Linked DNA regions of Homo sapiens: region 2 is linked to region 1. The links come from fine-mapping of genetic effects on gene expression. A gene starts in region 1. The other region holds a variant in brackets. All regions are shown on one strand. Distances are from middle to middle.

Region 1 (4,395 bases):
GAGATGAAGAGGGGTGAAGAGGGATGCAGGAATTTGGCCTGGGGAAATTAGAAGAATGAGGAGTCTGGAATTAGGATGCTAAGACAAATGAAAAGTAACTAGGTAATAATGAAGCGGGATGATGGAAGTTATGAAGACCTCAGGCTAAGAGATATTTGGAAAAAGGGATTAGGAGAAAAATGAGATGATGAAGCACTAACATTAGTCAAGAATAGGAGGCAGGAGGAAAAAAGGTGATTTGGGGTAGAGGAGAGGCAACTTTCACGTTTTGTACAGTTACATTTTTTCAACAAATTTTAAATTTTTCAATATATATATTTTTAATAGAGATGGAGTCTCACTATGTTGCCCTCACTGGTCTCCAACTTCTGGGCTCAAGCAATCTGCCTGCTTTGGCCTCCCAAAGTGCTGAGATTACAGGTGTGAGCCACTGTACCCAGCCTTCAGTAAATTAAAAAAAATAAGAATTCCAGGTCAGGAAATAACAATGGCAGTATAATTATCAGCATCATTATTAGTATATTAATTTTATCAAGTGCTTATGATGTGCCAGGTACTTTTCTCAATGTTCCACACTATTAGCTTATTGAGTCCTCATAACAACCCTGAAATACTTGATATAACATCTCCATTTTGCAGATGAGGAAACCAAGTCAAAGAGAGGTTATCTAAAGTGGTGGAACATGGATTTGAATCTAAGCAGTTGCTCTTCCACACTCTTCACCACCATGCTAACCCGAACAACAAAAAAACCTTTTTGGGAGGCATCCCCAGGTCAGAAGTATTAAGTGGTTATTACACACCAGGCACCTATTCTAGAGGCTTTACATAAATTATCAAGCTTTATTTCATTCTCACAATAATCCTATGAATAGGTATTGCAATCCCTTCCCCACTGAAACTTTCTGGAATCCGAAATTCTGATACACCTATATAGCTATATCTACATCTATGTAGATACAGATAGACACACACACACACACACACACACACACACACACACACACATTCTTCTATGTATCTAACTGTAGTTCACATATAAAGTAATCATAAATCACTCCTATTGAGATAATTAGAAAAAAAGGAATCATGGGCTGGGAAGAGAAAAGGGAGAAAAAGCAGAGGACAGAAAAGACGAAAAGGTTTGCAGAAAAACTTTAGTATAACAGAAATCAAGAAAATGGAGGGAAAGTAAACTCAGGTCTTAGTAGTAACTCCTGAGACTTTAAGAAAAAGGAGGCTGTGACCATAATTTGGAATGACATGATGACGGCAGAAAATAAAAGTGGTTTTGGAAGGGGAATAAATTAATACTGCTTTGCTACTCATAAATATTCAATAAAGATTACCCATGTTATTTGCAATGCAAACATACAAGCTACTCTTCATCTCTGGGACGGAGAATAGGTTATAGAAGATGTGATTAAAGTCACAAAATCAGAAAGATTTTAAGCTGGAACACCAGTCTTAAGCATGCATATTAGCTGCAGTAAGAATGAATTCACATGCATATTCTTACAAATGAGACATCCTGAAGTAACTAGCAAGCAAAGAATATGGATGAAAATTTATTGTATAATTTGAGTGGCAATGATTTTTCATTAAGATATGTGAACAGCCTCTGATATATCTAGTGTGCTGTTTTAAATTTTTAGTGAACATTAAAACATGCTATAGGGGCTTTCATAAATCAACTCACGACCTGAATTCTTCCAACCCCATTCCCCGCGCGCCCCAAAATGTCTTAGGTTAGCATTTTCAAAGCCTAATCCTCACAGAGAGCAAGGTTCTGTATTATTGTGATTCCCATTGTATTTCTATCGATCAGGAAAACCTCAGGGAGGTTAGATAACTTCCCCAAGGTCATTATCTGATTTCAAAGCCCTTGCTCTTTCTATCCAGTAGAACTACATTGAACCCGGAGCAGCTAATGGGATGGGAAGACCTGAGTCATTTGATGGGAGGGATGAAGAGGCCAGGGAGCCCCCAGCCTGAGGACAGAGTGGGAAACTGCGGGCAGGGAAGGTCGACCCCCCCGTGAGGGGCTGGCGGTGGGTAGGGGCTTCCCGGAGAAGGGTGAGGTGACGGTAAGGAGGGCCTAGGCCGGGCCAGGTAAGCTTGCAAAAGAATGCCGCAGAGGGGTGGTGGGTTAGGAGGGCTCAGCCAGGGTAGGGGCGGTGGGTGGGTGGGTGGGGGGGGTTCCACGGCCGAGCAGAGCCTGGGAACCGGCAGGGACGGGCGAGAAGGCTACCCTGCAGGCCGCACCAGGAAGACAGGTACGCGGAGCCGGGCCTGGCCCAGCGCAGCCGCGCTCCTCGCTATCCCGCCAGCCTCCGGGAGCCGTCTCCGGCATCGTGGGGTTGTCCTCCTCCAGGGGCCCGCGGCCTCTCACCTGCCGGGTGGCCGCAGCGCCGCCCCTCCTCCATCTCGCAGTCCGGACCCCAGCTCCGCCTGCCGCTCTGGATGATGCAGGACTAGAGGCATCATCGCCATCGCCACCGCCTCCGCGCATCCCGGGAGCCGCGGCAAGACGCGGGCGCAGAGGCGCAGTCACGGAGACGCCGAGGGCACCGCCCCCTCCGCCGGACACCCGGGCCTGGCGTCCCGCCTGCGCCCCGCACCCTCCGCGCCTCCGTCGCCTGCCTCCTGGGGCCCAGAGCCCGGCCACTCCCGCTGCCCGCCTCACGAGGGGCGCTTGAGCCAGGTTTTTCAGGCTCGCAGTTTTGCTGTTTGGGGAACTCAAGCTCCCTGAAATAGCCAAAACCTGAAACGCAGAGCAAGGTGGAGTGGTAAGGAAGGAAGGGAAAGATAGGGGTACTGATGGCACGCAGGGACCCAGGGAGGTCTTTGCGGGCCTCCCTAGGCTGCTTACCCTGCCCGCAGCCCACCTCCTCCTCGTTCCCCGCGCTTTTAAGACGTCCTAACTAGCTCCTCACTTAGGCTGCGGCTAATATTTTTCCTCATGAATTAAATTGGCGGCGGCTTCCAGTTTGGAACTTTGAGACCTAGAATTTACAAATCAAGTCATTGTAATAGAATTTAAATTAAACCTATTTGAACTTACCTAAGCTCTCTTAAGGTATTAGTGAATTCACTGAGGGAACTCAGCAAGGGGACTAATTGGCAGGAAACATGCAAAGCATAAAGAAACTACCCATGCAAATAAAACGACCAAGCCCAGGAATCATGGATATTGATGTATTACTTAATACTATGTTGAATGTAAAAAATCTTGATAAATCATAGTGCAATGTACAAGCTAATTTTATTAAGCACAAACACAAAACTAAAATTACCATCCTCTCTCATTCTTCTAGAATTCATACATGTCCAAAATAATGAACTCCTAAGATAGGTTTTAGTCTGAACAATCAAGTAACATTCCTAAGTATGTCTGCTATGATGGGTACAAAATAAAACCAGTTAAACTCTTCTCCCTTCAGTATCCCAACCTGGCTAACTAGGATCTTACTACTTTTCTAACCTCAGGGATGCTATTTAGAAACAGAGAATGTTATTTGAATGCCCTTTCCTTCATTCACTCTGGTTACCAGAAAAGCAAAGTTGATTCCGTTCGGATGAAATACTTATACTGGATTCTTCATTTTAGCTAATGGTTTATCTTTTTAAAACAGAACTAGCAAGTATCAAGTAATTTAATTAATGCAATTTCTTCAGTTCCCTGTGCTTTCATAAAAACAAAACAAAACAAAAACAAACGAAAAAACAAAAAGCAAGAAGGCTAGATAACTTATTATTCAGTCCAGGAGTTGAGTATGCCATCAGAATTCTGTTTAGAAATAACTTCAAGAAAGTTTTCCAGTTCCCACATATTCCACTTCCCAACCACTTGCAATAAAGCAGTTCCAGTATATGTTATCAATAATGGTAACCATGAGTCCCAGAAACAATCCACAGAAAAATACTCATTAGCATTTGGAGTGGGAATTCTGATCAAAATTATATACCTCTCTATAATAAATTAGCTACTGCATAAATAAATGCTAGTTCATTTCCAGGCATTTGGCTATATGAATGGAGATTACAATAGGTTTGGGCTGCATTGAGACCATCAGAGTTATACCTACCGGAGAAATGGTCTGAAACTGAAAACAAACAAAAAACCACAAATCATAAAGGATTCTAGAGATCTAGAAGAGGAAATCAGGACTCATCAAAGTTCCAGAACTAGCTAGAACCATTCAACAAGGCTAAAACTAGTATATCTACAAAATCCACAAGTGAGCGAAATTGGAAAAAACATTGGTAGTAGTAAAAAAATGGAAAATCTGCAAATAAATAAGCAGGGCTAATTATAGATCATGAATTGGCTATCAATCTGCCCTGACACTGGCATTCTTCTAATACACTCTTATTATTGCAATGCAAATGGAT
Region 2 (4,395 bases), 190 kb after region 1:
GTCAGTACTTGTTCTTTCAAAATTATTTCTGAAGTTGAGAACAAATTTTTAAAGTGTGAGATGGATTTTTTAAAAAGGTTGTAATACATTAAATATATCATGAACATTCTACTTAGACAAAAGACCGCAGCTACCATACCACGATAAGAAATTGTCTCCTCAAGAGTTGAGTCATGGTTCTAGAAGAAAACTCGTCAATGGCTAGGGAGATAGAATTGACCCTGTGATCTGGGAAGTGAGTTCTTTCCCCCAGCCAAGGCTGGTTCCATGGTTGCAGGTGAAGATCAAGTTGGTCTTCCAGGTCTCACTAAGCATTGTAACCTTGGGCTTCACTCTATTATTTAAGTCATTAGAATCTGACAAATGTAGTATTATTCATTTAGAGATGATTTTTCCTAATTTTATATATATTTTTTGTAATAAAAGTTTTTGTAGGCCAGGCGCAGTGGCTCATGTCTGTAATCCCAGCGCTTTGGGAGGCTGAGGCAGGAGGATCCCTTGAGGCCAGGAGTTTGAGACAGTCTGGGCAACACAGGAAGATGTTGTCTCTACTGAAAATAAAAAAAAGTCAGCTGAGTGTGGTGGCACACCCTATGGCCCCAGTTGCTCAGGAAGCTGAGGTGGAAGAATTGCTTGAACAAGGGAGGTCAAGGGTGCAGTGAGTGGTGATTGTGCCACTACATTCCAGCCTGAGTGATGGAGTGAGTTTTGTCTCAAGAAAAAGAAAAAAAAATTAACCATGTGTTAACAGCTACATAACAAACTTACCATTACAGCCACTTTTTAAAAATTAAATCAATTAGTTAATTTTTTTAGAGATGACAGTCTTGCTCTGTCACCCCACTGGAGTGCAGTATCATAGCTCACTCTAGTGTTGAACTACTGGGCTCAAGGGATCCTCCCACCTCAGCCACCAGAGTAGCTGTGATTACAGGCACATGCCACCATGACCTACAACCATTTTTTAAGTGTATAGTTCAGTAGTATTAAATGCATTCACATATATGGCATTTTTAAAGATATCTTCAGTGCCTAAATGTGCAGAATTGTTTTCAAATCTTTTAGATAATTAATTTAGACACTGACAAGAGGAAGTGACAGACTTGGCTCTGAAATTCCCAGGGACTGCACTTTTAGGGTTTATGAGAGCACCTCATACCAGGCAAGGGTAGGTGCACCTCAGGGCTCAGCAGGAAGCAACAGCAGGGACAAGGACAGAGATTCTCTGAGAATTTGCTATGTGTCAGTGTCTGTTCTGAGATAGGTTAGAAGTAATGAGCTGGGGCCAGGTGCAGTGGCTCACACCTGTAATTCCAGCACTTTGGCAGGCTGAGGTGGGAAGATCACTTGAGGCCAGCCTGGGAAACGTGGTGAAACCCTGTTTCTTCTAAAAATACAAAAATTAACCAGGCGTGGTGGTGCATGCCTGTAATTCCAGCTACTCAGGAGGGTAAGGCAGGAGAATCGCTTGAACCCGGGAGGCGGAGACTGCAGTGAGCCAAGATCGCGTCACTGCACTCCAGCCTGAGTGACAGAGTGAGACCCCATCTCAAAAATAATAATAATAATAATGAACTGACTAGTGCCACCCTGATCTTTTGTGAATCCTTCCACCATCTTATAAGACTGCCTTACCTCCTCAGACACTTGCCCCTGTCAATGTGTCTTTTTCTTCTCCGTGGTTTTATGCTTTCTCTATTGGCTTCCTATCCACATGTAAATATGCTGTTTCCCATTTTAATAAAACAAACCAAACCAAACAAACAAAACCTTCCCTTGTCAAAATCCTCCCTTTTAACTTTACATTCTTTTTGTGTTTGCTTATGCTTTAATGTAGGGTTTCTTTTTTCCTTTCAAAGCTGTGCAAGCATGGGCATGGTTGCAAGTGTCAAATCATTTTCCAAGGCCTTTGACAAAAAACAGCAGTCCTTGCCCCTCTGCTGCTTCTTACTCCCCCCAAACAACTATGAGTACTTTCTATTCTTTCAACCAGTATTTTTTTTAAAAAAGAGTATCTCCTCATCTCAGAATAAGAAGCTTGCTCACATTTTTCCAGCTTTGGCCATTGGGAGCTCTTTCAGATTGGCTCCACATCCCTCTTGTTTTCTGAGCAATTCCTTTCTTCCTGGCACTATACTTACTTTTTGCCAAGCTTATCTTGTATTTTCCCTTATCCAGCCCTAGAATCAGTTATTTTCCAAGGAGCCCTGGTTTCTTTCATTGAAGAGTGGTTTTTGGAAAGCCAAATCTATGCACAAGTGTGCTCATTGCTACTGGGTGGACACTGCTTCTAGGCCTTCTCAGTGGACAGTTAGAAAATAAATGCGTGTATTTCT[G/A]TGTACAGCAAGTCCTTACTTAACATCAATAGGTTCTTGGAAACTGCAACTTTAAGCAAAATGACATATAAAGAATCAAATTTTTTTCTTTTTTTTCCTTAGGACCTCATGATGCAACAGTAGAAACCAAATTTTTTTCATGAACAGTCTAAAAAATGACATTTAATGAAACATTATTTGAGGACCTGCTGTATATTGTTTCCTTTAAAGTCGCAAAGTCTTGCAGGTGCTGTGGCTCTTGCCTGTAATCTCAGCTACTTGGGAGGCTGAGGTGGGTGGATCATGTGAGGCCAGGAGTTTGAGATCAGTCTAAGCACACATAGGGAGACTCCCATCTCTAGAAGTCATTAAAAAATTAGCAGATGTGGTGGCACGTGCCTGTAGTCCCAGCTACTTAGGAGGCTGTGGTGGGATGATCTCTTGAGCCCAGGAGTTGGAGGCTGCAGTTAGCATGATATCTAGTGCACTCCAGCCTGGGTGATAGAGTGAAACCCCATCCCTGAAAAAAAAAAAAAAAAAAGAAAATAACTAAAGAAAACAAAATTTTAAACTCGCATATATGAAAGTTCATTCTTTCTACTGTGAAGTTATATGGGTTTTAAAAAATGCATAGTCATGTATACACCGCTCCAGTGCTGGGTAAAACAATTGCATCCCCCTAAAAATTGTCTTTATAGTCTCTAGTTCAATTTTTGATTGCACTTATCAAATTCCTTTGTCTTTTTAAAATTTTATTTATTTATTTTTGAGGCAATGTCTTTTTCTGTCATTGAGGCTGGAGTGCAGTAGCACCATCATGGCTCACTGCAGCCTTGAACTCCTGGGCTCAAGCAATCCTCCTGCCTCAGCCTTCTGAGTAGCTGAGACTACAGGTGTGCACCCAACTAATTAAATTTTTTTCTTTTTTTGTAGATACAAGGTCTCGCTGTTCTACCTAGGCTGTTCTAGAACTCCTAATGTCAAGCTATCCTCCTGCCTCGGCCTCCCATGCTGTTGGGATTACAGGTGAGAACCACCGTCCTTGGTCACAAATTCCTTTAAAGAGCTGTGCAATGGCTCTCACAGCCATTGCAGTACACTGAACTCCATAGAGACAGCACTGGGCAAGTGAGAACCAGACAGGCATTGGGCGACTCTGCCTCACTGAGGAAAAATAACTAAAAATGGGCAAAGGAGATCCTAAGAAGCTGAGAGGCAAAATGTCATCATATGCATTTTTTGTGCAAACTTGTCAGGAAGAGCATAAGAAGCAGCAGCCAGATGCTTCAGTCAACTTCTCAGAGTTTTTAAGAAGTGCTCAGAGAGGTGGAAGACCATGTCTGCTAAAGAGAAAAGTGAAGACATGGCAAAGGTAGAGAAGGCCCATTATGAAAGAGAAATGAAAATCTATATCCCTCCTAAACGGGTGACAAAAAAGAAGTTTGAGGATCCCAGTGCACCCAAGAGGACTCCTTTGGGCTTTTTTTCTGTTCTGTTCTGAGAATTGCCCAAAAATAAAAGGAGATCATCTTGGCCTGTCCATTGGTGATGTTGTGAAGAAACTAGGAGAGATGTGGAATGACACTGCTGCAGGTGACAAGCAGCCTTATGAAAAGAAGGCTGCGAAGTTGAAGGAAAAATATGAAAGGATATTGCTGCATATTGAGCTAAAGGAAAGCCTGATGCAGCAAAAAAAGGAATCATCAAGGCTGAAAAAAGCAAGAAAAAGAAGGAAGAGTGCCAGGCTCAGTGGCTCACACCTGTAATCCCGGCACTTTGGGAGGCCGAGGCAGGAAAATCACCTGAGGTCAGGAGTTTGAGACCAGCCTGGCCAACATGGCAAAACCCTGCCTTTACTAAAAAAATACAAAAATTAGCTGGGCGTGGTAATGCATTCCTGTAATCCCAGCTACTCGGGAAGCTGAGGCATGAGAATCACTTGAATCCAGGAGGCAGAGGTTGCAATGAGCCAAGATCGCACCATTGCACTGGAGCCTGGGCGACAGAGCAAGACTCTGTCTCAATAAATAAATAAATAAATAAATAAATAAATAAATAGAGGGAAGAGGAGGAAGATGAA

Direction of the effects. Positions count from the first base shown, and alleles are read on the strand shown. Sizes are in standard deviations (SD) of each study's normalised expression.
For the expression in monocytes after LPS of the gene that starts at base 2,532 in region 1, allele G in region 2 goes with a lower level than allele A (large effect, 0.84 SD a copy in Quach 2016).

What was found.
Region 2: its variant is fine-mapped to the expression of GPR75 in monocytes after LPS (Quach 2016, PIP 0.95).

The regions. Positions count from the first base shown.
Region 1 is chr2:53,857,436-53,861,830 of GRCh38, forward strand. It overlaps GPR75 (G protein-coupled receptor 75), which reads right to left and starts at 2,532. Exons shown (of 2, transcript NM_006794.4): 1 at 2,393-2,532. It overlaps GPR75-ASB3 (GPR75-ASB3 readthrough), which reads right to left and starts at 2,532. Exons shown (of 10, transcript NM_001164165.2): 1 at 2,393-2,532. The coding sequence starts at 2,493.
Region 2 is chr2:54,047,710-54,052,104 of GRCh38, forward strand. It overlaps a transcript of ACYP2 not described here and the pseudogene HMGB1P31. Among named protein-coding and RNA genes, the nearest start is that of ACYP2, 66 kb to the right of the region's middle. The variant G/A (reference allele first, on the strand shown) is at 2,337.